Linked DNA regions of Homo sapiens. The protein of the gene in region 1 interacts with the protein of each later gene in a biochemical or structural test. Each region holds a gene or a part of one and is shown on either strand. Other genes may lie near its edges. The genes, in order: MAST2, TRPM1, ABCA2, GOLT1A, CD46, PRR16 and CACNA1D.

Evidence for each region.
Region 2: the proteins of MAST2 (region 1) and TRPM1 interact in a test that uses a peptide from one of them, tested with the Homo sapiens proteins (one large-scale study listed by IntAct).
Region 3: the proteins of MAST2 (region 1) and ABCA2 interact in a test that uses a peptide from one of them, tested with the Homo sapiens proteins (one large-scale study listed by IntAct).
Region 4: the proteins of MAST2 (region 1) and GOLT1A interact in a test that uses a peptide from one of them, tested with the Homo sapiens proteins (one large-scale study listed by IntAct).
Region 5: the proteins of MAST2 (region 1) and CD46 interact in a test that uses a peptide from one of them, tested with the Homo sapiens proteins (one large-scale study listed by IntAct).
Region 6: the proteins of MAST2 (region 1) and PRR16 interact in a test that uses a peptide from one of them, tested with the Homo sapiens proteins (one large-scale study listed by IntAct).
Region 7: the proteins of MAST2 (region 1) and CACNA1D interact in a test that uses a peptide from one of them, tested with the Homo sapiens proteins (one large-scale study listed by IntAct).

Annotation. Positions count from the first base shown.
Region 1 is NC_000001.11:45,806,450-45,810,488, reverse strand, and holds part of MAST2 (microtubule-associated serine/threonine-protein kinase 2), read right to left. Parts: intron 1-4,039. UniProt on the Homo sapiens protein: Appears to link the dystrophin/utrophin network with microtubule filaments via the syntrophins. Phosphorylation of DMD or UTRN may modulate their affinities for associated proteins. Functions in a multi-protein complex in spermatid maturation.
Region 2 is NC_000015.10:31,063,726-31,067,225, reverse strand, and holds part of TRPM1 (transient receptor potential cation channel subfamily M member 1), read left to right. Parts: intron 1-38; coding exon 39-163; intron 164-978; coding exon 979-1,150; intron 1,151-2,084; exon of another isoform or gene 2,085-2,194; intron 2,195-3,500.
Region 3 is NC_000009.12:137,018,137-137,022,175, forward strand, and holds part of ABCA2 (ATP-binding cassette sub-family A member 2), read right to left. Parts: intron 3,866-4,039; coding exon 3,755-3,865; intron 3,475-3,754; coding exon 3,256-3,474; intron 2,926-3,255; coding exon 2,558-2,925; intron 2,360-2,557; coding exon 2,200-2,359; intron 1,171-2,199; coding exon 1,042-1,170; intron 935-1,041; coding exon 767-934; intron 680-766; coding exon 583-679; intron 216-582; coding exon 42-215; intron 1-41. UniProt on the Homo sapiens protein: Probable lipid transporter that modulates cholesterol sequestration in the late endosome/lysosome by regulating the intracellular sphingolipid metabolism, in turn participates in cholesterol homeostasis.
Region 4 is NC_000001.11:204,200,531-204,204,232, forward strand, and holds part of GOLT1A (vesicle transport protein GOT1A), read right to left. Parts: intron 2,458-3,702; coding exon 2,366-2,457; intron 1,282-2,365; coding exon 1,103-1,281; intron 1-1,102. UniProt on the Homo sapiens protein: May be involved in fusion of ER-derived transport vesicles with the Golgi complex.
Region 5 is NC_000001.11:207,782,877-207,786,915, reverse strand, and holds part of CD46 (membrane cofactor protein isoform 3 precursor), read right to left. Parts: intron 3,625-4,039; coding exon 3,586-3,624; intron 1,846-3,585; coding exon 1,810-1,845; intron 1,298-1,809; coding exon 1,234-1,297; intron 1-1,233. UniProt on the Homo sapiens protein: Acts as a cofactor for complement factor I, a serine protease which protects autologous cells against complement-mediated injury by cleaving C3b and C4b deposited on host tissue.
Region 6 is NC_000005.10:120,462,693-120,467,371, reverse strand, and holds the start of PRR16 (protein Largen), read right to left. Parts: upstream 3,073-4,679; 5' UTR 2,886-3,072; coding exon 2,727-2,885; intron 1,747-2,726; exon of another isoform or gene 1,661-1,746; intron 1-1,660. UniProt on the Homo sapiens protein: Regulator of cell size that promotes cell size increase independently of mTOR and Hippo signaling pathways. Acts by stimulating the translation of specific mRNAs, including those encoding proteins affecting mitochondrial functions.
Region 7 is NC_000003.12:53,721,371-53,725,409, reverse strand, and holds part of CACNA1D (voltage-dependent L-type calcium channel subunit alpha-1D), read right to left. Parts: intron 3,097-4,039; coding exon 2,936-3,096; intron 1,977-2,935; coding exon 1,751-1,976; intron 1,619-1,750; coding exon 1,411-1,618; intron 1-1,410. UniProt on the Homo sapiens protein: Voltage-sensitive calcium channels (VSCC) mediate the entry of calcium ions into excitable cells and are also involved in a variety of calcium-dependent processes, including muscle contraction, hormone or neurotransmitter release, gene expression, cell motility, cell division and cell death.

The DNA.
Region 1 (4,039 bases):
GGCTTCTTTAATCTCTAACCTAGCATTTACACCTTCAACGTAAAGCTCTGGGTCTGGCAATAACAAACCGATTATAGTTCCCTATATATATTACGCAGCTTCCCTTCTGTGTGCTTTCTGCCCTATGCTTTTCCCAATGTACTAACCCTGTAATGCAGAGGAAAGAGGTTCTGATTTCCATTAAAATAATTTTTTAAAATTTCTGTCACACTGAGGGTATTTTAGGAACTAAAGTTGAACTCATCTTCTGCCATCCTCAAAAATATTCTATTTCCTTTGTCTACTCCTATCATATAACCATTATTACTCAAATTACCAAAATTCAAAATATTTGAATCATTCTCCATTCATTCATTCAATAAATAATGACTGAGCACCTATTGTGAGCAAAGCCTTTAGCTCTGCATTGTTAGACAAAATGATGACATAGTTCTTACCTTCAATAACATGCAACTTAAAAGCAAAAATGAAATACAAATGAACACAGAAAGTTGAAAGTGCTAAAACACTGATTCATCCTTTCATTCAGCAAATATTTATTCAGCATCTACTTTATATGACCAGGAATGGATCAAACAATATGTTACAGAAACAAAATGAGATAAGACTACTTATTAAGCACCTACTTATTATGTGCTTTCCAGTCATTTTTGCATTTGATCTCTTGGAACCTAAGCTTTCACTTTTAAACCACAGAATTTTGAGAACTGGAATTTCAGGACATTCACAGATTTCCTGAAGCCCAATTAAGGATCCTCCTAGGATCCCATGTGGAAAAACAACTTTGCAGAAGAGTTTCTTTTTGGGTGTGTGGTTTTGTTTTTGTTTTTTGTTTGTTTGTTTTTTGCTTTCTTTACGAGACACGGTCTCATTCTGTCACCCAGACTGGAGTGCAGTGGTACAACCTTGGCTCACTGCAGCCTCAACTTCCAGGGGTCCCACCTCAGCCTCCCAAGTAGCTGGGCCCACAGGCGCGCACCACCAACCCCGACTAATTTTTGTATTTTTTGTAGAGATGGGGTTTCACCATGTTGCTCAGTCTGGTCTCAAACTCCTGAGCTCAAGCAACCCGCCTGCTCAACCTCCCAAAGTGCTGGGATTACAAGTATGAGCCACCACACCTGGCCTCACAGAAGTTTCTGTGGCATTTGAGTTAGGCCTGGAAAACTGAGTAGAATTTTAATATGCGGAAGCAGAGAATAAAGAGCTTCTCAAACTGATGACTAATTAAAGTATATCAAAGTGCCTAACAATAAACAATTACTTACTGAATGTCTATTACATACCAGTTAAAATACTAGAGGCTGAAGATACCATGATGATTAAGACAGCCTCAGAGGAATTCATTTGACTGACTTACAATCAATTAGGACATTGAGCAAATATCTATGTTTCTAATAAATACACAAATAACTATGTTTCAAGTACTATACTAAGCCCTAGGTATACAGAAGTAAATGGAACAGTCTGACTCTCAAAGAACTTACTAATGAGAGAAACAAGATAATTTTAATATTGTATGCCATGATCGAGAAAAGCAGACGGTCCTAAGGAACCAAGAGAAGTGGCAACTAACTGACTCTTCTAACAAAAAGTGCTAAGTATCAAGTAGATCTTGAATGCCAAGGTCTTCAGGCTTAATTCTATGGGTAATAAGAAGCTAATGAAGGTATATGAATAAGGAGAAATGAAATGAACATTTAACGAGTATTTATAAAGCACTTACCATTAGCCAGGGAGGCAATGAGTTCCAATCTTTTGTTAATAGAACGTGAAATATATTAGAGGTTAAGAGACTGAAGACTGAGTAAATACAGTTAAGATACTGCAACAACCAAGACTAAAGTTTATAAATATGAAATTAAGGTAGTGACAATGGGAATAATGGTTTGAAAGATTTCATGAAGGCAGAATCGAGAGAACCTAATGCCAGACTGGCTAAGGGAGTCAAAGGAGAAGAAGTAAAAGACTACAGATGTGGGCCAGGCACGGTGGCTCACGCCTGTAATCCTAATACTTTGGGAGGCCAAGGCGGGTGGATTGCCTGAGCTCAGGAGTTCGAGACCAGCCTGGGCAACACAGTGAAACCCCATCTCTACTAAATACAAAAAATTAGCCAGGCATGCGCTACTCAGGAGGCTGAGACAGGAGAAACGCTTGAACCTGGGAGGCAGAGGTTACAATAAGCCGAGATCGCGCCACTGCACTCCAGCCTGGGCGACAGAGCAAGACTCCATCTCAAAATAAAACAAACAAAAAAAGCCATGGATATAATTTCATGTTGGATGACAAAAAGGAAAGATACAGAGAGAAGCACATTTCAACACAGAAATTATTCTATTTTCATGATACAGTAAACCACTGACCTTCTGGAGATCCAAGTCCTACATCCTGATTAGAACGTATTCTTAAATACTAGTATAATAAAAACTGTAACAAGCACTGTTCCATGTCATGAGAAAGGGAAAAAAAAGTTACGTGTGAGATGTAGATGCTTGCTGATCAGCTGGGCTCTTACTACCCAAATAAATAGAATTCAACCAGTCTCGACACATACAATGAAAATTTTGGCCTTTTTAAAATCATAAATTATTACAAATTATGAACTTTCAAGGTCACTATCAAATTATAAAACTCACAAATGTTAGGCCGGGCACAGTGGCTCACACCTGTAATCCCAGCACTTTGGGAGGCCGAGGTGGGTGGATCACCTGAGGTCAGGAGTTCGAGATCAGCCTGGCCAACATGGTGAAACCCCGTCTCTACTAAAAATACAAAAATTAGCCAGGCGTGGTGGCGGACGCCTGCAATCCCAGCTACTGGGGAGGCTGAAGCTGGAGAATCACTTGAGCCTGGGAGGCGAAGGTTGCAGTGAGCTGAGGTCCCACCACTGCACTCCAGCCTGGGCAACAAAGTGAGACCCTGTCTCAAAAAAAAAAAAAAATCACAAATGTTAAGAACACAAATGATGAGTCTACGGTGGAAATGTTAAGCACAAAAATGGAAATGTAGAGCTAAGGAAAGAGGTCACACCTAAAGAGACTCAGCTCACTTTACAAGGATGTTCTGTGACACAATGCCATAAATAAAGAGGACTGCAGACCCTTGTTCTACATCCTCAACATCTACAAACAGAATGAGCCTGCTAAATAGAGCACAATAAAGGATCAAGCTAAGGACAGAGGACATGTCCTCAAGGAACATTTCAGGAACAGGAAGAGAAAACACAAGACAAAGACACACAAGAGAGCAGTTAGAGAAGCAGTAACAGAATGGATATTATAATATTAAAAAAGAAAAAAATGTCAACAAGGAACACACAGTCAACAGTGACAAATAGTTCACAGAGGTCAGACAAGATGAGGAAAAGACTATCAGATTTAGTAATTTAAAGGTTCCCAGGACTTTTACATATTTCTCTCTGTAACTATTTCACAATGAAAACTTTTCACAAGTAGCCATGAATTATATTTCAATTTGAAAAACAAACTGGGCACTCATGCCCATAATCCCAGCACTTTGGGAGGTCAAGGTGGGAGAATCACTTGAGCCCAGGAGTTCGAGGCTAGCCTGAGCAACATGGTAAGATACCACCTCTACAAAAAATAAAAAATTAGGCCGTGGTAGTTCACGCCTGTAATCCCAGCACTTTGGGAGGCCAAGGCGGGCAGATCATCTGAGGTTAGGAGCTCGTGACTAGCCTGGCCAACATGGTGAAACCCCATCTCCACTAAAAATAGAGAATTAGCCAGGCATGGTGGTGCATGCCTGTAATCCCAGCTACTCGGGAGGCTGAGGCAAGAGAATCGCTTGAATCCGGGAGGCAGAGGTTGCAGTGAGCTGAGAATGTGCCGCTGCACTCCAGCCTGGGCGAGAGAGCAAGACTCTGTCTCAAAAAGAAAAAGAAAAAGAAATTAAAAAATTAGCTGGGCATGGTGGTATGTGCCTATGGTCCCAGCTACTTGGGAGGCTGAGGCAGGAGGATCACTTGAGCCTGGGAGTTCAAGGCTGCCGTGAGCTATGACGGCACCACTACACT
Region 2 (3,500 bases), on another chromosome or scaffold:
GTAAAAGAGCCTAAAATATGACCAATGGCTGCTCACAGGTGTTATCAGCCACGTAGGGGATGCCTTGAAAGACCACTCCTCCAAGTCCAGAGGCCGGGTTTGTGCTATAGGAATTGCTCCATGGGGCATCGTGGAGAATAAGGAAGACCTGGTTGGAAAGGATGTAAGTGTTTTCTCTGCAAATGTTGGCAGTTTTTTAAAATTAATGATTGATTTTGAGGTAACCGTTGATTCAGATGCAGTTGTAAGAATAATAAGAGAGCTCCCTTGCAGCCTTTCCCATTCCTCCAATGGTAACATCTTGCAAAACCATAATGCAAGATCACAACCCGGATACTGTCATTGATAAGGTCAAGGTGCAGAATGTTTCCATCAACACGAGGATCCCTCCTGTTGCCCTTTCATATACATATACCTCACTCCTTCCTACCCCCACCTCTTCCTTAACCCCTGGAAACAACTAATCTGCACCACCCCGCATTTCAAGAAGGTTCTGTAAATGGAATCATACAGTAATGTAACCTTTGGGGATTGGCTTTTTTTTCACTCCACATAGTTCTCTGAACACGCGTCCAGGTTGCCATATGTATTGGTCTTCATTCCTTTTTACTGCTGGCTGACATCCCATGATATGGAGGCACCAGTTTCTTTAACCATTTGTCTGTTGAGGAACAGTTTGGCTGTTACAAGTAAAGTAGCCATAAACATTCCAGTGCAGGATTTGAGGTTAACATAGGTTTTCATTTCTCTGTGATAAATGCCAGGGGTGCAATTGCTAGGTTGTCATTATCTAAAACAATTAACTTTCTTTCTATTTTAATGTAACAATTGGCAAAAATAAAACCTTCAAAAGGCAGGGTAGAGATGTGAGAATAAGTTTTAGTGCAGTCACTCCACACATATGTATTGTGCTTGCTTCCCTTGTTGGTCTTAACATCCAAGTCCTGCAGGTCTGATTTGCGCTGTGCACTTTGTCAGGTAACAAGAGTGTACCAGACCATGTCCAACCCTCTAAGTAAGCTCTCTGTGCTCAACAACTCCCACACCCACTTCATCCTGGCTGACAATGGCACCCTGGGCAAGTATGGCGCCGAGGTGAAGCTGCGAAGGCTGCTGGAAAAGCACATCTCCCTGCAGAAGATCAACACAAGTAAGTGCTGGCAAAGGCACGCAGTCCTCCTGGGCTGATGCCATCACAGTGGAAACAAGGCTGAGAAGGAGATTGATTGCCCAAGGGGATTAGAAGATTAACCTTGCTTCTTGTTAGGTCAACAGAAAATGACTCACCTAGATGTCTTACCTTAGCCACCTACCAAATCACATTCACTGGGCTACATGGGGATGCTTTGCCCCAGGTTCACAAGTTAGCACGAAATAACCCTCAGTGCTCGCCATGGTGATGGCCTTGCCCACCCTGTTGCCCAGTGGTTCTTGTTCCCTGTAATTAGTTGTTATTTTTTAAGTGTTTTAACAGGAAAACAATTTCTCAAAGATTTAGTAGGATTCTTTCTATTTGCTGATAAGTATTATGTGATTATTAAATATCTCTGTAATGCTGGGCCTTTCATGTAGACTAAGATGGCCAGGTGGGGACATATCTGGAGAGGGCTGCAGGAGCCATCTGCTCCTGAAGGGGCATCATCCTTGCTGGTCCTGAGGGGGAGCTGTCACTGTCAGACGAAAGCTGAGGTCGAACTAGAGAGAAAGACGCAAACCTCAACCAGAAGAAACAATGATAACAACTGGTTAGAATTACAATAACTGGTATAATCTCTTGGAGCATGTTTATACTCCAGTAATTCTTAACGTCAAACAATTGTTAAATGATCTGAAAGAGCAGTTTGTTTTTCCCATTACTGGCAAGATTTTTGTGGGAGACCATCTAGTCCTGGCGAATGGTCATTGGGAATCATCATGTATGGGACTGTGATGCTGCAGAGTGGGTAGAATGGGGATGGCCTACTAGGAAAAGTTGTAGATTTCCGAGAATCAGATCTCGAAGAATACATTGGTCGATGACTGAATGTTTTTTGTTCTCACATCTCTAATTTTTCTGGACTTGTAAGTTTTTACAACACCCCATTTCACCTGGCCATGTGACTTGTGGGCTTCCCTTTGTCATCCTTCGCCTAGGGCTCTGAGCAGGGCAGGGACAGCAAAGGGGTGCTCAGTTGTCACTTCCCACAGCACGGAGCTTCGAGGACTCCAGCCTAAGCCAAGAAGAACCTGTTCTACTCTGTTGCTCGAAAAGAAGGTGATTTGGCCACCATATTCCTAAAGATTGAAAATATCAATCCTTGCTTGGGTTGGAAATCTCAAAGGCGGAGTCCAGGATATCTTAGTTCATTTTTCCAATATCTCCTGGTCAGGGCTTTGCACAAAGCAGACCCTCAATGCATGTCTGCTGAAATGAACTTAGCTGTAATTACTCTGGTGGACACAGCAGAGTTATTCAACATATGTAAGAGTCCCTGACTGTAGAAACACCTCATGGAAGCAAATTAGAAACTCTGAAATGGCTCATTTGAAATTCTCCAATCTTCTCTTAACCAATGCTGGCAGATTTTTATCTGAAGCCCTTCAGAGCTGAGACCAACGATACTTCCACTTGCCTTTAGTTAATATCGATCAACTAATTCCCATCACAACTAATGGACAGCTGGTGAAATAGGCTCAGAGTGTGATCTGTCATGGCCAGTGTGGCATAAAATTAGGAAGTAGGCAAATGTGCCTCCACTCCCATTTCCTTCCCATTCCAGAATCCCAACTTCCTGGAATCTTCCTGCCACCTCTTGCTTCCCAGAGCCATGCCTGCAGGTTCTGCCACCAAAAGTTAGTTGGTACCCACTGTGTTCTTGAAGAGTCCTATTAACTGATAGAGACAGAGGGAGGACTCTGGGAACAGGTCATTAACTGATGGGCCACTAGTGGTCCAAGTGGCTGCGTCCAAGATCTGCACTTTATTCCAGCCACTGAAGACAGAAACGTCAACAAGAACAGTGTACCTCATTTGTATGCTACTTAACGTTTACAAAATTATTTGCTAGCCAAACACATATTCTGATATTTTTACAACTGCAGGAGTTAAAGGAAGCACTGTGATTGTTCACCTTTTACAAATGGCTGTCTAAGGCTCTTGGTGATTTGGTGATTGGCCCAGTGTCATAAGGGAGAAGCCAGGAATTGAACTGCAATTTCCCTGGCTGGTCCAGATCCCCTTTCATCATCTTATTCTTCAGGGACAGCCATCAGGGTGGGAATTTCAGACCATAGGCTAGGACAGCCAGGGGGATATTTTTCCAGCCAGGAATACCTTCCAATATTTCTCAGTGGTCACCTTGAAGTAGCCCCAACATCAGGTGGGTGGGTTATTCAGGAGTTTAACCATATGTGAGTCAGAAAGTTTCAGACTTTGAGGTCCTGGTTTTCCCAATGAGGCCATAATATGTGACAGAATGCAAGAATGATAACTGGGCTGGGCACAGTGGCTTACACCTGTA
Region 3 (4,039 bases), on another chromosome or scaffold:
CCCATGAATCCTCCAGCCGGTCTTCCGGGCCTGCTCCTCACCCTGGATCCAGACGAAGCCGTAGAGGAAGTAGAAGCGGCCGCCAGTATTGGGCCCAGGCCGCCAGTAGGCGCGGCGGATCTCGTTGGTTTTCTCGGTGAAGCTGGAGTTCTGGCGGATCTTGTAGTGCACGTGAGGCGGGAGCGAGCCGTCCTTCCGGGTCTGGAAGATCACACCTGGGGCCGGGAGGTTGGGGCGGGGCCAAGATGCAGGGGCGGGACCAAGGCGTGGTGGGGGGGAAAGCAAGGCACGGGGGCGGGGCCAAGGTGTGGGGGCGGGGACAGGAGGGTCCAGGGAAAGGTGGGACAGGGCTGGGGTGGGGGCCCCAGGGGAAAGGTGGGCAGAAGTGGGGAGGTGCAGGGAGGGGGCGGGTTGTGGGTTGGGGCCGTTTGGAAGGGGCAGGGGTGGGGAGGGGAAGTGGCGGGTGAGGGGGGAAGGCCAGGGCGCGGCCAAGGAGTGGGAGGGCACAGGGGGACGGGTGGGGCTGGGCTGGGGAGGAAGAGGTCTGTGGGGGGCTGGGGCGGGGCGGGGAGGGCAGCTCACTGGCAAAAACAGTGACGTTGTCCTGGTAGGCCTGGTTGAGGGTGTAGTTGACAATGCTCTCCTCGTCGGGGAAGCCCTTGAAGATGTCCACGCTCACCTAGCGGGAGGGGCATCGCTGGAGCCCGCCGTGGGCATGTGCGAGGCAGGGGGTGTCGTGGGTTGGCTCGGAGGCCCCACCGCTCACCTTGGACATGAACTGGATCCAGCCGCAGGCCGCGTTGTCAATGGTATCCAGCTGCTGCAGGAGGGCCATGCCACTGGGCAGCGAGAAGTTGTCCTGTCTCAGGGCCGGCGGCAGCTCATCCAGTGACAGGTTCAGTGCCTCGGGGTGCAGCCGCAGCTCTGCTACATACTTGGGGTGGAGGGGCGGCTCAGAGGGGGACCTGCGCCTGCCGAGCCGGGCAGAGAGGGGCTCCCCACACCACCCACAGCCGCCTCCCTCGCGGGCACCCTTGGCACCTGCTGCAGCCAGCGCAGGTGTTGCTGCAGCCTGCCCTGCTCCAGGAAGCTGCGGATCTCCGCCGAGATGTTGAGCCAGACCTGGGCATAGTGAGTCACGTTGCCCACAAAAGCAAAAGTCTCGTTGGCCTGCAGGGGGTGAGGCAGGGGCATGGAGTTTCTGGACGGACCCCCACCGACTTGGGGGCTCTCACCCCACTCACCTCCCCAGTGGCTGGTCCATTGCCAACAACTAACCCTCCCCACCTTTTTTTTTTTTTTTTTCCTGAGACAGGGTCTCAGTCACCCACGCTGGAGTGCAGTGGTGCAGTCCCAGCTCACTGCAGCCTCCACCTCCCAGGCTCAAGGGATCCTCCCGCCTCAGCCCTCCAAGTAGCTGGGATTACAGGTGCCCACCACCACGCCTGGCTAATTTTGTATTTTTGGTAGAGACGGGCTTCCGCTATGTTGCTCGGGCTTGTCTCAAACTCCTGAGCTCAAGCGATCCTCCCACCATGGCTTCCCAAAGTGCTGGGATTTCAAGCGTGAGTCCCACGCCCGGGCTCTCCACTCCTTTCTGCGGCGCTCAGGTGAAACCTGCTTTGCCCTCCACTCCCAGGGCAGCACGGCCTCCGGACCCCCAACTGCCCAGCTGTGCCCACCAGCTCCTTTGCTGGACCTGTCTCCATGTGTCCCTTAAGCACCCAATGCTCCACCCTCATCTGTCCCACCCTCATCCTAGGGACCCCCTCTACACCCAGGATTGGCCTCGTCCACAGGCCCTCCCCTCCCAGGCCAATGTCCAGCCCTGGCCTCTGCTTGTTCCAGACAGGACCCCTCACCCAGAACCCAAACTGCCCAGCTGCCCGCCCACGAGACACTCTGGAAGGTCTCTGGACACACCCCTCCTCCACCAGCACTGCCCTGGACCGGCCACCCCCAGCCGGAGGACCCTGCCAGAGCAGACTCTCCAGTGCCTTCCCACAGCAGCCCCTGGAGCTCCCGAAAGGAAAAGCGACCCCCTGGTCCCCCACCTGCAGAGCCTGTGTCCCATCCGAAGCTGCACCCCGTACCCCTCCCGTGTCAATTCTGCCGACACCCTCTGCCCAGGGGTCCCAGGCCTGCAGAGACCCCCTCCCACTCTGCCTGTCAAACATGGAGCGTCCCAGACCCGTGCACCTTGAGGATGACGCGGTCGACCTCAGAGCCCGCAGGCGCGTACAGGATTTTGGGGTTGCTGGTCATGAGGTGCACGAGGAGGCCCAGGTTCCGCTGCTCCTTGCTCGTGAAGCCCAGGGAGCTCATGTTGCCCCGCCGCAGCGCCTCGGGTTCAATGGTGCTGGGGTAGGGGACAGGGGGCCGGGCCAGGCCGTTAGGGGGCAGGGCCGCGAGAGTGGGAGGGGCATCGGGATGGGGCAGGACTTCGGGGCACAGGGCAGGGCGCCAAATGAGACCTCCAGAGCCAGAGCCTAGATTCAGGGCTCACGCCCTGCCCCTGGCTGTCCTCCTCACCCCCATTCCCCTGCCGCCCACCTACCGGTTGTTGCCACACAAGATGGGCTGCAGGCCGGCCCAGAGCTGTACGAAGGCTGAGCACTGGCCCTGCAGCGTGTCCGGGGTGGCCAGTGCTGCAGCAGAGGGTGCGCCCTCCTCAGCGGTGGCGTTGGGGCCCATGACTGCCCCTGCCCCAGTGCCATTGGCCGCCCCACCCGCACCACTGGCTGGGGGTCCGGGGGTCCGGCCAGTGCAGGCACCCTGGGGCAGTAGCAGGGCCAGGGCCGACAGGACATCCACATCCTGCAGAACCTTCTGGGCATCCAGCAGGTCCCCCAGAAGCGCCTGCAGCCTCCGTGGGGGTGGCGCCTGTGGCGAGGAGTCCGAGCCGTTGGGGGCATCCAGGCCCAGCTGAGGGGAAACAGGCACGTGGGCAGTGCGGGGTGAGATGGACTGCAGGTGGGTGATAGGTCAGGAGTGGAGCAGGGAGACAGCAGCAGGGAGACACAAGCTAGGGGTGCTGGGAGGGAGTCTGCAGCCTGGGTAACGGGAGCCCAGGACAGGAGCTGGGATGGTGAGCAGGAGTGGGGCACCAGCCATGGTGCCATTGGATACCCACCCACAGGCAGCATCCCACGCACAGCCTGGGCCCAGGAGCCCTGAGCTCTCCAAGCGGTCCCAGCCCCTCCTTCAACTCAGGCAGCAAGCAGCGCAGCGGGCAGTGGGCAGGCAGGGCCTCACCTGCTGGGAGACCTTGGCCACGTCCAGCTGGTTCCGGAGCTCAGCAGACAGCCCAGAGAAGCGCCTGGCACGCGCAGCAGCCTGCCCACTGCAGACAGCATCCCGGTAGCCCTGCAGGGCTCCCTTCTGACTCTCAGGCACAGTGAGGATCCGGCCCAGCTCCCCCGAGCCCGGCGTGCAGGTGAGCTGCTCCAGGAGGGCAGGAGCCAGCAGCAGCTCCTGGGATGGGCACAGGGGTCCGTGGAGCCACGGCAAGGACTTTGTCCCCAACCACTAGGGCCTCAGGCCTCACCCTGCCCCACCCACTGGCTGGCTCTGGGGCTGCCTGGGTCCCACGACATGCCTCTACCCCTCATGCCTGCCATAGACCCCTGGGACCCTCCCCCTCTCCCAGGAGGAGCTCCAAGTCACCAAAGGGGCCCTTTCCTCACCCACGGAGCAGAAGCACCCCCAGAGGCAGGCAGCACTCCAGGCCCATCCCACACATGGATGCCCTCACCTCCATCCGGAACAGGGGATTGCCCCCTAGGCGGCTCCAGGGCTCCTGACCCTTGTGGAGGCCAGACTGTGAATCCAGGGCAGATGAGGGACCAAAGAGCAGGTGGTAGACCTAGGAGGTGTGGGGGAATGGCTCAGATGGGGTGTGGGGGGCGTGGCTCAGATGGTGGGGGCGTGGCTCCGATGGACGTGTGGGGGCGTGGCTTAGATGGTGGGGGCGTGGCTCAGAGAGTGGGGGCGTGGCTCAGATGGTGGGGGCGTGGCTCCGATGTAGGTGTGGGGGCGT
Region 4 (3,702 bases), about 160 Mb from region 1:
TTGGCTAGTCTGTTCTCGAACTCCTGACCTCAAGTGATCCGCCTGCCTCGGCCTCCCAAAGTGCTGGGATTATAGGTGTGAGCCACTGCACCCAGCCATAAAATGACATATTTGAATATGGAATAAATAGATGGCAGGTATGCATGAGAAACTTTAAAGCCACACTTCCCAAAGTCTCTGAGGCCTAGGCCATTCAGGCTAATCAGGGGGTTTCAGGGCTGCCTTCAGCAAACGGGGGCTCCTGTGAGAACCTGGGGATTCCTGAGCCCCACACCTTTCCATGATTGCAGAAGCCATCATTCTTCCAGGGTCCATTGTCCCAATCCCACCCCTATTCTCTCCACACCACCGTGTAGACATATGAAGTCTTCCTTCCCACCCCCACTTTCTCTGAGACTCCTTCCTTCCTTTTCCTTCAGTGCCCTCCAGTCTTCTCTTAGACCCTACCCATCCCTCAAGGCTTCTCTCAAGTCCTGCTTCCTCTATGACACTACCCTGGGCTCCCCTCTAAGTGCCTACAGGCCTGACAGTGGCCACACATCATGGCTGAGTTCCACCCTGCCTTTTCCCAGGCCCAGGGCTGACACAGGCCTGGCCAGGGGATGACACAGGGGTCAGGAGCCAGAGCTCCCTGGGTTAAGGGCGACCTTTTTCACATACTAGTTTGAGACTTTGGGCCGGGGGCAACTTCTCTGAGTGTTGGTTTCCTTATCTATGAAGTAGAGGATAATCCTATAGTGGGTTGTTGTGATAAAATAAGATGATGATCATGAGTGTGCCTGGAACATGTTAGCTCACTGCCCTTCCTCTCCGGCTGGATCACTGAGATTTGAGGGCAGGCCTCGTGTCTCTTCCCTGCTCACAGGCACAGTGCTGGGGGCACAGTGCTGGGAACACAGTCGGCACTCTATCAGTATTTGTTGATGGATGGGCTAATCCCTCCAAAGTACCCTTCAGCCTACTTTAGGGGGCCTTTCCAAGGTGTCCATGGTTCTCATCTCTTGCAGGATAAAGTCCCAGCTTCTGCACTCCCTGCTGGGGTGATCTCAGCCACTCAGACACTTTGGTGGGTCTGTCCAGGGTTATAGGGATTTGCACTCACTTAAAGAGGCTGAAGAATCCGTAGGTTTCCAGGAACATGCCGAGGAGGGGCCAGCGTAGGAGCACGATAACCACACCCCCCAGGAGGAAGCTGGTTCCCTTGAGTTTGTGCCGTTGGAAGAAGAACCAAAAGGTCTTCCTCAGGCCAATGATGAGGGACAGGCCCGTCAGGAACAGCAGCTGTAGGGGAGGGAGGGGAGCATGAAGCAAACCCACCAGCCCCCTGAGGAGTGAGGGACTTAGGCCTGGAGCCAGGCGGTGGGCTGGGACAGGATGTGCTAACTGTTCAAGACCATCTGAGCGAGGGCCATCCAGCAGTGTGGCAGAATCCCAGAGCCTTGATAAGTCTTGCTGGCTGGGAACAGGACTGCGCAGAGGCAGGGGGATGGATGAGAAACCTTTGACGGTTTCTAGTTGCCTACCCAATTCCCTGGAGCCCAAGCATTTTTCATATGGGACTTGGTTTCTCACCATACCATCTGGGGAAGATGGAATCGGGAGGGATTTTTATTCCAAAGAAGTGAAGATTGAGGCCTAAGTAGGTTAGGCAGCCATACTGAAAGTCACACAGAACCTTCAGAGGCTCCACTGCCTACAGAATAACCCTCCAGTCCCTCCCCTGGATGCCCTATCACCGTCTTCAGCTTGGCTCCTAATGAATCCCTTAAGAGTGCCCAGGCTCTCATCAAATTGAACTCTCTGGTTTTCTTCCAGCATATCCCATGCTTCCCTGCTCCTTCCCCACACCTTTTCTCCTGCTGTTCCAATCCCCCTGGAAGTGCTTTATTCACCTCCACACCCATTTCCTTTCCAAATTCCTCTCCACCATTCTCCAATTCAGTGTGCCCTCTTTCCACTAAGCCCCTTGTTTCATACTAAATGTGTTTACCATGGCCCCTGCCTTCCTCCCAGCCATGTATGTCATGTTATATCTCTAGCCCTAGAGTGGGATTCAGATGGCAGGGACAGTGTCTGAGTCCTCTTAGAACCCCCAGGGTCTCGCCCAGAGCTCGGTGTGAGAATCCAGGTCCTCAGATTCTTGGTGCCAGCGGGCTCTGCGTCCATTTCCTGTGCCCTCCTCTGCCCAGGCTTGATGATGTCTGACCCCTGGATAGGCATGGTCTGAATAAACTTGGGATTTACTTAAGGGATTTATTTAAAGACTTAAATAAACTGTAAGTCTTTATTGCCAGGACTATCCTGGCAATAGAGACTTCAGAAAGGTTGGGGCAGGGGAGTGGGGACACAGGGCTGGGAGACTCACGTTTCCAAAGGCCAGGAGCACGGAATCAAAGTACAGGAGTGTTCCAAAGAGGATGAAGAAGATGCCGAAACCGGTGATCCCCACACCAATCTCTGCAATGGGCAAGGAGGTGGTGGAGGAAAGGGCTTTGGGGAGCAGGTGGGGACCCTGAAACTTCCCCCATTGCCACAGGACAGGTGCCCTCTATGGGGGTGACTCCACTTCCATCCAGGAATCTCAGCTTTCATGCTCTCAGGGGATGGTGGGATGGGAAGGGGAAGGTAGGATGGCATGAAGCTTTGTCTGGCACCTGGGAACTGTGCTGTCACTTCTGTACACAGTGGCATGCTGTCCTCACTGCAGCCCTGTGTGGAAGCTGGTGCTGCCCTGACCACTTTATACTCTCAGCCTCCTCTTGTCCTCAAAAGCCACATTATCCACATCAGTATCAAGGCTGAACATAGCATCTGCTGCCTCTGCTCCTGCCTTGTGCAACTGAGAACCACTGGAGCCCAGCCCACACTGCGCAGAAGGGAGCCACTGAAAACTCAGGACCACCAGCTCCAAAGAGCCTCAGAACCACCCAGCTCTCCTGGTCCTTACTCAAGAGGCTGGCCCGCCTGAGCAACTCTCCACACTGCCTCCTTCCTCCTCAGAATTGCCCTGTCTCCACTCTCAGGTGGTGACATTTCCCACTGGATTGGGAAAACAGAAGTCATCAGTTAGGAATGCATTCCTCTTCTCAGCTGGGACCTATATCCAAGACCCAAGCCTGCACCTGCTCCCATTGTCCTCCCTCCCTCCTGCAGCAGGCACCTTGCGGGCCCCCCACACACTCTTCGGCCAACTCTCATTTCAGCCCAGTGGCTTTGGGCAGTTCTGCCGAGGTTGGACCCACACTGACAATGAGCCCCCATTCCCAAGGTTTGACAGTGAGCCCCCATTCCCAAGGTTTGACAGTAAGCCCCCATTCCCAAGGTTTGTAAGTGTCTCAGGGCATTCTTTGAAGCTGCAGGAGTTCACTCAGAGCCAGCAAGCGTAGCCTAGAAGTGCAGGACATGAAGGCCCCCTCGTTTGGTCAAGGGCTACATTTTTGACATTTTGATAAACATATTTCAGATCGCTCCCCTCAAGACGATTTGTACAATAACCGGATATATAGTTCCTTTTTTCCTTAACCCTCTCCAGCACTCAGAATTGTTCATTTTACTTATCTTTGCCACTATGATAGTCAATAAATAAAAATTCATTCTGTTGCTTTGTTTTTAAATTGTTACCTTTTTAAGTTTTAAATTGTGGCAACGTGCACATAAAATGAGACTTACCATCTAACCATTTAAAAATGTACAGTTCAGTGG
Region 5 (4,039 bases), about 160 Mb from region 1:
CTTATGGATTTGTAAAAATATTCCATTGATAATATTTTGTACTCACGTTGTAGATATGTAACTTTTAGAATATACAACTGATAGATAAATCAAATATGCATATCGTGTTCCATTAATACAAGATTTAAGATTCAAGTGAAGGGATTATGGGTATTTCAAAAGATAACCAAGTAATATGAAAAAAGTTTGAGTTCCTTATGAGTAAAGCTTGTACTTTTATGACTTAGCCCAAACCTGATGATCAGTATAAAAGGAATATATATCATAAAACCATGAGTACCAAAAGTCTTAAAATTATTAGGTTTGATTTCAAAGCTATTTCTAAAACTATAGGGGAAAACAGTTTTTAAAAATCAGTAAAAATGAATGTATATTATCTTTCAGAAATTTCAAAGCACCTAATCTTAGTCTGTGTTCCAGGATTCATTCTAAGTCTTTTGTTAAACTGTAAGCTCTTTAACTAAAATTTGAGTTTGATGTTTTAAAACCCTATTTTCTTTAGAAGATATGTACTTGTACATTTTTCTTCTATTCTAAACCCACTCACTTTTTACATTTTTATATATTAAAAGACACAGTTAATTGAGGTACCTTATAGATCTAACCCCTCTCAGCAATTTTAACTTTAACCCTATCAGTTTTACTGCAATCTGGTAAATTCAGAGAACATAAGAGGGAAATCGGATAGTGTTGTTTTGAATCCCCCAGTTTAACATGTATAAATAACAACTTTAAATGAAAAGACACCAAATTGGGTATTTAAATGATATGCCTACATAGCTTCTTGCAACTAGCTAAGCTATATAGACAAGTGGAAACTTTCATTATAAAAATTCCAGTGAATACAACTGTCAAAGTCTCCACAGTGAAATACTTTAAATTTAATTTTGGCCATTAGTGCAATTTTGGAAATAGGGAATAGGGTAGAGAAGGCCTCATAGTGAGTGGTCCATGATTTGCTAAATAACTTAAACCTCAAATCCAAAAGAAATTTTTCTTAAAGTCATAATAGCTGTAGGAACTCTGCACAGATGTTTTTATGTTGCAGTGATGTTAGAAGTAGCTGAAAATATTTTTAGCAAAGAAATGCAATTGGTAGGACAAACTAATGCAGGCATTTTTTTAAAAAAAAAAAAAAGATAGCATGCAATACAGATTACAAACTGAAGCTGCACAAAAGCATGTTAAGTATAAGAAGGACCAAGAAGTTAAAAGAAACATGCTTTAATTTACCCTTTCTTCTTCCTCCTTTGAAGATATCTGTACGGGACAACACAAATTACTGCAACTCCAACAACTATAAGAAACCAGGAAACAAATGACATATAATTCTGAAAACTAATCACCAAGATTCAACATCTAGCAGAAGAAATAAATGTTGGTTACATTTCAGTGGTCAAATGTTATTTAAGCACCTACACATTTATATTCCATCCAGACTCTTTGCTATCTAAATCCAACTCCCCATAATCACTTACACAGTCCATAGTAAGTCAGAGAAAAGTCCTTGCTTAATTTAGAAAACTATCAAAAGCACATTTGGGAAGCCAACTAATATTACTGATCATCTTGAGAAAATATGTATTACTTAGGCTTTGTTACTAAGTAGATATACAGAATATAACAGAGTATAAAATCACTAACACAAGGTAGGTAGTTAAGTATATCAAATAAAAAGTCAGGTTTTCCTAAATCGGTTTAACCAATTTACAAGCTGAAAAAACTATAGAAACTGAAAAACTATTTTTAAAATGCATGTCTTCACAATAATTTTTTGACTTAAGTGGTGTCAAAATTTGTGATACTTACCTATGGCAATAACAATCACAGCAATGACCCAAACATCTGAGAAAGAAAACAGTTCCAAGATGTTGAACACATGGATCTCCAGATAGCATTTATTTCAATCAGATCATCTAAACACTTGATATGGTTTGGCTGTGTCCCCACCCAAATCTCATCTTGAATCGCAATTCCCATAATCCCCACGTGTTGTGGGAGGGACCCCATGAGAGGTAATTGAATCATGGAGGCAGTTTCCCCCATGCTATTCTCATGATAGTAAGTTCTCACGAGATCTGATGGTTTTATAAGCGGCTTCCTCCTTCACTTGGTTCTCATACTTCTCCTTCCTGCCATCATGTGAAGAAGAATGTGTTTGCTTCCCCTTCCTCCATGATTATAAGTTTCCTGGGGCCTCCTCAGCCCTGCAGAACTGAGTCAGTTAAATCTCTTTCCTTTATAAATTACCCGGTCTCAGACTGTTCCTTACAACAGCATTGAGAATGGACTAATACAAGACTACAGAGGAAAAAAAAATTTTTTATATAGTTTTAGCATGACTGCTAGGGCATCCAGGTCATTTTGATCATAGAACCCTTCTAACCAGTTTCCAGGTTAAGGGTTCCACTTGTGAAACTCTTAATGGGAACCTCATTTTTCACTGTTTTTCTCTATAGCTACCACATCAGGTTATTTAGCGGTAAAGTTATTAGAGTAATTAGAATTCACTATAGTAAAGGAAAATGATTTTTGAAAAGTATTATCCCATGAGAGTTGGTTTAGTTCAACAGTCATTCTGTCATTTCTTATTTTGGTAGACATTTAATTTGTATTTTTTCCTCCAAAAGTGATCTGTAGAGTGAGTCATAAATAAATTTCTATTATTCTATTGCCCAGATGGTATTTACAAAGTCTTCACAAACAATACTTTATCTTATCAATCCCCTTCCCATCCTCTCTACTTCCATACTCTGCCCTGCCCCAAAATTAAGACATAGTCCTAAATACCAATAGGATTCCCATAATAAATGAAACACCAGGGCACATGGATAAAAAATATACAGAGAAATTTGAGAATACATTTTTGACTATCTAGAGAACACAAAATAATCCTATAAAATCTTAATTTTTAGAACTGTTTCTGTCCCTAGTACCTTTGCTTCTAAACTGCCATTACTTTTATTAAATTGCTATAAGTCAAAGCATAAAGTGCTATGTTCAACTCTGCTCTTCTCATCTCATAAACAGTTATCAAGTGTTTAACAGTTTAAGATGGCAACAGATTTACTTGGACCACAGATTTTGGAGGTAAGGCAAATACTAAAAAACAAGCCTAAGGTGCATTATATAAAATGATTAACCATTACCAAACTAGTCTAAGAAATGAAAGGTAATAGATTTTTGTTTTTACTTATTAAGAAATCTTTATTTTTCATTGGCCTATATCACAACTGCACTTCATCTTTTTTTTTAACATGCATTGTGTAAACTGCGTAAGCCTACATCAAGTGTGTTAAATCAGCGTGTTACAGAAAAAATAAACCCAACTTAGATTGCTTTAAGGTTCATGTATATAAGATATGAATAGAAAGAAAATTTATCGACAGATTACCATCACAAAATAACAATATAATGTGGAAAGAAAATTGTGTTTTATATATTTTAACCTACATACAAACACAGCATTTAAGAAAGTTATCTTACCCTACCAAGGATCCTATGTTTGGGCACCTCATAAAAACTAATTACCTACACGTTTCTACACATACTACCACTTATATTTGTCATGATAGCTATACCAACCCAAACTGTCAAGTATTCCTTCCTCAGGTTTAGGATATCCTAGGAAAAAAGAAGAAATATAGATTAAATTAATAAAAGAAGGAAAGAATTAAATATAAAGCTTAAAATCCTTTAAACTCATAGGGTGATTTTTTTTCACCTTTGTAGAAAATCCCTTAAAATATAATTTTCCTTATAAACTATATTAATGTTTCTCAAAGTAGTATCATAAAAATTTATAAACTTACATTTAATGTCATAATCTTTCTTCTTCCTCCCCACTCACATTTTCTGTGACAACATTCTGTGGTTCAACATGCAAATTTATCTGTACTATTTTCTCAAAATTAGTCTATAAATCCAATGTGATTCTAATTAAAATTAAAAGATAGAGGGATTAGCCGGGCACAGTGGCTCACGCCTGTAATCCCAGCACTTTGGGAGGCCGAGGCAGGCGGATCACGAGGTCAGGAGT
Region 6 (4,679 bases), on another chromosome or scaffold:
ATATAGTCATAACTACTTTTTTATTTTTAATTTCTGTTGCAAGTTAAGAAGAGCTCGCCGATAATTTATATTAAAATATATTATGGTCTAAAAGCATAGCATTGCCAATAAAGGAATTAGAATTCTAAATATAGCAGTTTATATTTAACACGTACTAATTTTAAGCTGCCAGAATACTGAATATGATGAATAGCAACATTCATGTACAGCAACCAACAAGCTTTGTAATGTACAAAGTTTTGTTATTTCTTTATCCAAAACTATACCAAAGACATGTTCACTCACATATGCAGGATTATCCTAAAAAGATACATGCTGGACAACTGCAAGATGTCATAGGTTAAACATACCCTATAAATACTTTGTTCTCAAAATATTTTCATTCATATTCTATGAATAGCCGATGTTTTGGGATTTGGCCATTGTAGGTACATTTTCTTGTGCAAATCTAGGATGATGATACCCACACAAAAGTAATTAACAATCACATCACATTATTTATGTCATAAATTTCAGTTTCATGGTGAGATTTTTACTCAAACAGATCCTTAAGACAAACAAATCTTCCAAAATGTTGAGTCAAAATTGTATCTCTAGATCTGTCAGATAGTTTCATCTACTGGGTTGTACATTATCTCTGCTTTTTATTCCTCTTATAAACAACCTTTTTTTTAACCTTAAAAAATCTTCAGTAATGAAGACACAGAAAGTGGTATCAACAGATTTCCTGACTTACATTTTTGTGATTCTAACCAATAACCACAGGGAGGTTGAAGATTTCACTACTTAATCTCTAAATGTCCATAAATAATGATGCAAAGCAAAACCAGGACCATGTGCAGTTTCTTGTCATTTATTCTGTGCAAAAAAAGTGAGTGGACTGACATTAAAACATAAGGAAGTATGGCTCACAGATGCAGAATTCTGTTTAACTACCTTTCTTTTAGTCTCAGCCTCATGAAAACAGTAAATACGTTTCTGTGCCGCTGTAGGTTTTCCACATCGCCCATAGAAACCTCACCAACTATTAAGCACAATTCTGCCGAAAGGAACATGCCCAATTTCATTTTTTAAAACGCCATGTTTCAGATGAAAACACAGTCTACCAAAGATGTCATATAAAAGAATAACAAAGAAAGGGACAGCATTTTTAGAATTGAATTTCAATGCATAACCCCACCATCTGTCAACCAGTTGTGAAGCAATAATCCTACAGAAACCCTGAAAACACGAACAAGTTTTATCCCTGAATCTATGTATACTAACAGCCACTCTCAGGACCTCAGTACTAATTATGTTCTGTCTGTGGAGTAACCTACAGGAACGACATTTACCACTGGCAAACTTAACCCTGGTGACGAATGGCCCATTTTAACAGACTTGCATTAGGTAACAAATGCAGAGTTCAGTTCATAGAGGTAACGGGGGAAGGGGAGGAAGACGAGGGGGCTCTTGAAATTTGGTTTGGAAATTGAATACAGGAGGTTAATCTCTAGAGGCCAGTCATCCAAACAACCCTCAGTCTCCTCCCCGTTGGCTTCAGAAACAGGATTACAATTTTGGACCTAGACTACGCCCCACCCCTTTTCCCGCTGCAGCCACCGCCACCTTCGAAGTTCTAGTCTTAGCTCTCACGCAGCGGAGCTGCGGACTCCCTCACCGAGAACCGCACCAGGACCCCATTCAGTAGTGAGCGGCGCGCTGGGACTCTGCTACCAGCTCCGCGACGCCGCCGGCAGCCAGCCTGGCTCGGGAGACCCCACCCCTCCCAGCCCGGCCCCCGCCCCCGCCCGGAGCCGCCGCCTGAGTTACGCAGCCTCAGCCCTGACACCTTCTCTGCTTCTTTCCATCTGGATCACCTGGGGCTAGGGGCGGGCGGGAGTAGGGCTGAACCGAAGTGGGATAGGAAAAGCGGGGAAGAACCGAAGCAGTCCCAGCTGCAGAGAGCCAGGACGCCAATGGCAAGACCCCGGCCACACATACACTCTCCTGCGCGTCCTGCTTCTCGGGTTCAATGCCAAGTGGCGACAGGGTGGAAGGAAGGAAGCAGAGGTAGGGTGGCGGGAAGGCCCAGAGTTACTGGTAACGACGTTCGGAGGAGAGCAGGGGATGCTTCAGAAACTGAGAAAGTGAGAAAGTCCCAGACCCCCTCCTTAGCCCCAAGGCTGCCAGCAGCCCGGGTCGCCTTCCCTACAGCGAGGCTCGAGAGACAGGGAGGGTAGTCTGAGCCAAGCTTCCTCCAGGCTGCCCTCCCTGATCTGGCCCAGGGCCCAGAACCCGGCCCCTCTTCAGCCCTGACTTGGGGAGGCTGACAGATAGGCAGCGGACTTGCCAAAGGACTCTGGGGAAGCAATAGGGCAGGAGAGGAGCATCTTGCACGCTCCAGCCGGGCTGCTCACGACTTCCTCTGCCGACACACCCCCAGCTAACCCTCTCCCCCGTCGTCACACACACAGATTCAGAGACACGCGTGCGTTCATCCCTCCCACCAGCCCAGGTCCATCGATTAAAACACTAGTTGATTTCTTCCTGATTAAAAAAAAAAATTAAAAAGTGCAACAACAACTCCTCTCAGGACTCCAGGAGCAAAGAAAGTCCGTCTGCAGGCGCCTTTTCTGTAGTTTCCCAGGAGTTTGGAAATCTGGCTGTCCCTGCTGAAAATCGGAAAGGGGACCCCGGAGGGGTCGAAGGGTGCCGAACTCCCTCCCCACCCCTGCGCCTCTCACCTCCTTAAGTTCCTTGGCCACGTCCTTCAGGTCGCCCAGGACTAATTCCAAATCCTCCACGATGATCTTGATCTGTTCCTTCACCTTGGTTTTGGAGGCTGCCGGCGGTCCCTCGGCTGGACAGGACGAGGAGGGGTTCCCCTTGGACTTGGCTGACATTCTTTGGGGGCAAGCGAGGCAGGTCAGGACAGGCGGGCGAGCGGAGGCTGCTGCGTGCCCCCGTCCCTGGCGCTGCTACGGCCGCTGCCGCCCCGGTCCCCCCACATCTTGGGCGCTCCCTGGGCAGCGGCGAGTGGCTGCGCTCCGCGCTCGGCCGGGCGGCCGCACAGTGGTGCTGCCATCAACTCCCGAGACGCGGCGCTCGGCTCGGGGCTGCAGACGGGCGAGCAGCGCGCCTGCGCCTCCTCCCGCCGCCGCCCGGCGCTCTCGCGCACACGCGCTCGCTCCCCGCCCGCGGAGAGGGGCGCCGTGCTGCCGCGCCAGGGTTGACGCTTGCAGTCCCCTCGACGTTGCCCTTCGAGATATCTCCCAGATGCCACCTTGGCATCAAGGTGGGGGAGACAAGTCCGTGTCCTGCCCGCCCCCTCCTCTTGGTTCTGAAATGTCCCCATCATCTCAGCCTGCTTGCTGTATGTCATCTCACAACTAGCCTGGATTCTTTCTGCTTCACTTGCTAGCAGGGACCTGGATCAATTCAGAAAGAACCACAGTGGGATCAGGAGTTGGAGACAGTCTGTAAAGTGGCCCTACAGATTTATCCAAACCCAAATGATGTCCAGAGGCCTTTAATCAATCTCTTGGTGACCTGCGAGTTAAGCAGACTTCTTAACTTCTGCAAGAAAAAAGGGGGGGGGGGGTGCACATAACAGCTAATGGTCATCTATTGAAACCATGAAATTCAACCAGTGTTCTTGAAAGAGGTACCCTAATCCTGCTAATTCCACAAAGCTAATACCGGATTTATTAATTTGAAGTCCCCACACCCCAAATCCTCTCTGATTGTCTCAGTCATCTTGGCTGTATGTCTTATTTGGCCCAACTCTTTTTTTTTTTTTTAACTGTCCTTCCTCTTTTTGTGACCTATGCTGATTTACATTTTGAGTGGAGTGGGGGAGACATCGTATTTGGACCTCGTGAAGGAGCTGAGTAAGAGATTGCCTCCAACTTCTCTTTCATCATTTTTTAAACCTCCATTTCAACTCTTTTGCTACTAAACAAATAGGAAACAACTTTCTGACTGTTCTGTCAAAAAGACCCAAGAAGGGAAGTTAATAGGAAGCCTTCGGTTCACTCTCAGTAGGTGTCTACAATTCTCATTAGCTAGAATTTTAACTTCCTTAGTTGTAAACCCATGGGCTATTAGCTACTGACCCAGCAGGCTGGCTCTACTTTATTTTCTTCACTGCACACTCCTCCAGATCATTCTTTTAATAGGCTTCCCCTTTTCGTCGTGCCTTAGCAAGGCTCTCTGTTTCTTGCTTCTCACACTCTGGGTAGCTCCACTGTGCTACACATAAAGAAAAGCTTGGCAGCTCTCCTCTTCCCAGTTCTGTAGGCTCTTAATCAATCACTCTCTTAATCCTGGACAATTCATCTTTACAAAACCTTTGGAAGTCATATGTGGAATATAGAGGAAGAAAGAGAACAGAAGAAAAAATTGAAATTTGAAAGTGGTGTCAAAAGAAAACCATTGAAAACTGCATTGAAAAATCAGGGGAAGAAATGAGAAAAGGTGAAAAGCAGATGCTGCTGGAAAGACTTAAGAAGAGATTATAAGAACAAGTCTGCAGCATGCAAACTGGAGAAAAGAAAAAGAGAAGAAATGATTAAAAGTGTGAAATAAGTAATATGCTTGAGTTCTCTGAGGTAGGGAGAATTAGATTTTTAAAACATCCTTTTTCTCCTCAAATTCTTTATTTTATAAAAAATATAACATTAAAATAATTATATCAG
Region 7 (4,039 bases), on another chromosome or scaffold:
CTACTGGAGCCCTGTGTATGTGGGCTAAGACCAGACAGAACTCAATGCTTGTCAGCAAGGGACTGGTCATATGAACAACGGCACATCTACCACCGCATGGACGCAGCGTTTCAAAGGAGGGGCAGCCTTTTATGGACCAAGCAGGAAGGCTCTTGAGGACACTCAAAGTGATAAAAGCAAGATGCAAAACAGCACGTACAGTGAGCTCCTGTCTGTGGAAAGTCTCCTATAGGTAGCTTAACTGAGTTGTAGCTATCAGAAAATGCAGATCTAAGAATTCACAAGAAACTGTTTAATGGTGGTTGCTTCCTAGAAGAGGAAATTTGTGGCTGGCTGGGAGAATTATTATTCATTTGTAACATTAGAATTTTGTGCCATATGCATGCATTACCAAAAAAAAAAAAAGACACCAGTTTCTCTGAAAGAAATTTTTTTTTAAAAAAGAATCACTGATCAGCAGCCAAAATTTAAGTATAATTCAAACAACAATACTATGGCTTACAGCAGATTATATATACCTGAAAATGACCAAGTGGGAGAGAATTGTCCAGATCATTCCCTTTGGTCTCTGGATTTCTTCAGAAATGGGTAAGTGACTCATCCACAGCAGAGAGCTGGGCATGGAAAGGGCCACCACAGGACCCAGCTGTCTGCTGCCTTTCCTCTCTGGCAGGGCTCTGCAGCTCACATCACACAGGAAAAGCAATGAGGACAGGTGGGTCTTTTAAACTTCCCCATCAGACCCTGTCCAAGGAGGAGGGTTTTGAGCACCTCAGCGTAGAGTCAGGGGAGCATGTGCTGCTGCTCTGAGCAGCAGAGCCATCGGTGCCTCTCTGCAACCACCGCTCCCTTCTCAGCTACTGCCTGCAGAGGCCCCACAGGACAGGCACCCTCAGAATCTTTGTGTCCTCACTGCATCCCAGGAGGAGGACAGAAGGGACCAATGGCTGCCACAGTTCCTACCACTCTGATTCCTCCAACTACACACCAAAGCATGGAGGCATGAGAATTCACTTCTTGTGTAAATCTATTATAACTAGGATTATGAACTGGCCTGCCATCAAAAAGTACCAAAGAGAAAAGAATTTTAGAGTCTATTTCAAAGAAACCTCATAAAATCAATCAAAAAGTTTTCTTGGAAGAGCTTGAGTGTGAAAAACGGTTTTTTTGGTTTATTATTTTGTAATGTAGCTAGAAGTCTTTAAAAAAATTACATCACTTAAGATAGACAGCTGGAGGATGATGCAGAACGAATAACTTAAATGGCACAAAATTTACCAGGCTATGATTAGGGCAGAGATGAACAAAAATGGAGTCCTTTTGTCTTCCTGAGTGTGAGCAGACAAGAAGGCAGAGGAGTTTTAGCTGCTGCTCACGAAGTGCTTTTCGGGGAATGGAGGGAGGACTCACCTGGAACACTGTGAGAAGTGCTTGAGGGAAATTGTCAAAGGTGCTCCGCTTGGTTTGCGTTTCATCAAAATTAAACTTGCCGCCAAACAGCTGCATCCCAAGCAAGGAAAAGATGATAATGAAGAGAAAAAGCAGAAGCAACAGCGAAGCGATGGACTTCATGGAGTTTAATAAGGATGCCACTAAGTTGCTCAGGGAAGTCCAGTGCCTATAAGTCAAGATGAGGGTGTCAGCTCAGAACACCCATGCAGGACAGAGCAGAACATCACCTGCCCGGGGATGTGACTGGTTGCCGCCTCATGTTCATAAAACATTTGCAGTGGGACCCACATTTCCTTACCTGGTCACTTTGAAGATTCTTAAGAGGCGCACACACCGAAACACAGAGATCCCCAGGGGAGACATGATTTCCAGTTCCACCAAGATCGTCTCAGTGATTCCACCACACACCACGAAGCAATCAAACCGGTTGAAAAGAGAGACGAAATATGCTTGGAGGCCCAAGCTGTACATTTTTACCAGCATCTCGCAGGTGAACAGAGCCAAGAGGACTTTGTTGGCAATATCTGGAAAGACAAAGGGGCACCCATCCTCAGGGTCTCCTGCAAGACACTCAGACTGCTCGTGCCCCTCACACCTCCCTCCCTATCAGGCCCCACAGGAAATACGCCAATACCTTGTCTCTCTCTTCACTACCTCACTCAGGACAGAAACGTGGCCTTCGCGTGGACAGTCTGTCCACCAGGTTCTGGTCCTGCTTCTGCTACTAGCTATGTGTGTGACTCTGGAGAAGTTACTTGATTTCTCCAGGTCTCAGTGTCACTGATGACAAAATGGGAAGGGGCAGCTCATCACATAATCTCTGACTCCTTCCAGCCCTAAAAGCCTACGATTCTGCGTTGACACCATCAGGTTATACATATTTTTTCATTCAATCACACAGAAAAGATCTGTCTGAATTCATTTATGGCATGACGATATCAGAAGCAGTCACCTATCAATGTCATTTCTAACAGCTGAAAATATCACCAAGCAGGCTGGAGAGGTAGAGGGAAACGGGTTTGACTGGATGAAAGGAAGGACTTTTCAAAGGCTCAAAACTGTCAAACCCAGAATGGGCTGTCTCTAGGGATGAGTGTCCCACACCCCAGTGCTGGAGCATTCAAAGCAGGGGAACCAAAACCATTTGCCAGAAGTACTATAGGGGAAAATGAAGCTTCCCCGATGAGGGCAGGGAGCAGGGATTACGAGGTCCCTTCCAGCTTCAAGAATTCTTGGTCCTAGGTTGGCTCAGGGTTAGGACAATTAGATGCTTGGCATTAAGTGGCTCCAAGGTGCTTCACCACGCGGCACAGATGGCACCCTCGCTCTGGTAGTTGCTGTGTCTGGATGGTTCTACCAAGTTTGTCCTCACTAGAAATGTTGCGATACTTCATCATGCAGCGATCAGATAAGACCAAATGGCAGTTGGACAGCCACAGAAATCTCTAGTTCAGAACAAAAAAGGAATGGCCTCTGCTTGTACCTTGAATCTGTGTCAACCAATCTGGCTGATTGTAGTGCTCAGAGGAAATGGTTAAGGTGTTCAGAAACACCAGGACGATAACCAGCCAGTAAAACGTGACAGACTTCACGGCGGCCCTACATCTTCTGCGATTGAATCGGTTCCAGCGACGCCAGCGTCGGCTAAAAGACAAGCAAACATTACTACGTAGATGACAGATACAGCATCTGAGTATCCAATAAATATGATTGAGAGATAATTTGGCTTTCACTCTGGAGGTCTAGATTGGGGTGGGAGTGCAGGAAAGAAAGATGAGCACAAATGGCACAGAAATTAACAGACTTCATCATAAAAATTATGTTGGTCTTAAAATGCGACTTTTAAAAGTATAATCTTGACTTGATCATGCTATCAGTCCTTCCTTATGGCTTATAGATAACTCCAGAATCTGTCATATGCAGCCCTTAAGTGGGTTAGAAAATCTAGATATTCATAGATTCACGTGCAGATGCAAAACTACACTTGCACACATATGCAGTTCCTATATCCACCATATGGGACGTGGATCTGCTCATGCAATCAGTGCAGAGAGCCACTTCGCTTATTATACACATCTCTTGCAGCATCTCAATCACCATACAGAATTTACCAGGCAGCAAAGTGCTACAAAGCTAGTTTTTTTTTTTTTAAAGGGAACCTTTTCAATCCTTTCTTAAATCTCTGAGGTTCCTCCAGAGCCTGGCAGAGTTGTCAAAGCTGAGTAGGACATGAATCTTCATACTGAGTCATCAGGTGCCCTTTCTAACTAGTGATGCTCAAAATATACCTTTAGGAGAAGAGCCAATATTGAATCGTGTTTTCATAAAAATAAAATGAGCTCAGCCAAACAGACAAGTAGCATGTCCTCCACCTACCTTCAGTTCCTGATTGTGATTAGAGAAAATATTCTCTCCCTTAGCCTGTCTCCTTCTAGAAAACCTTCCCTGCCACAAGGGGATGCTTTGGTAAAGTGTGCCATGAGCTGCAGCTCAGTGACCCAGATCCCGTGGAAAGGTCAGCCAATTGGTAAAGTCAGTCCTCTCCAGGCTGTGCTGCCTCACTAACGACAATGGGGTACTTCCTCTG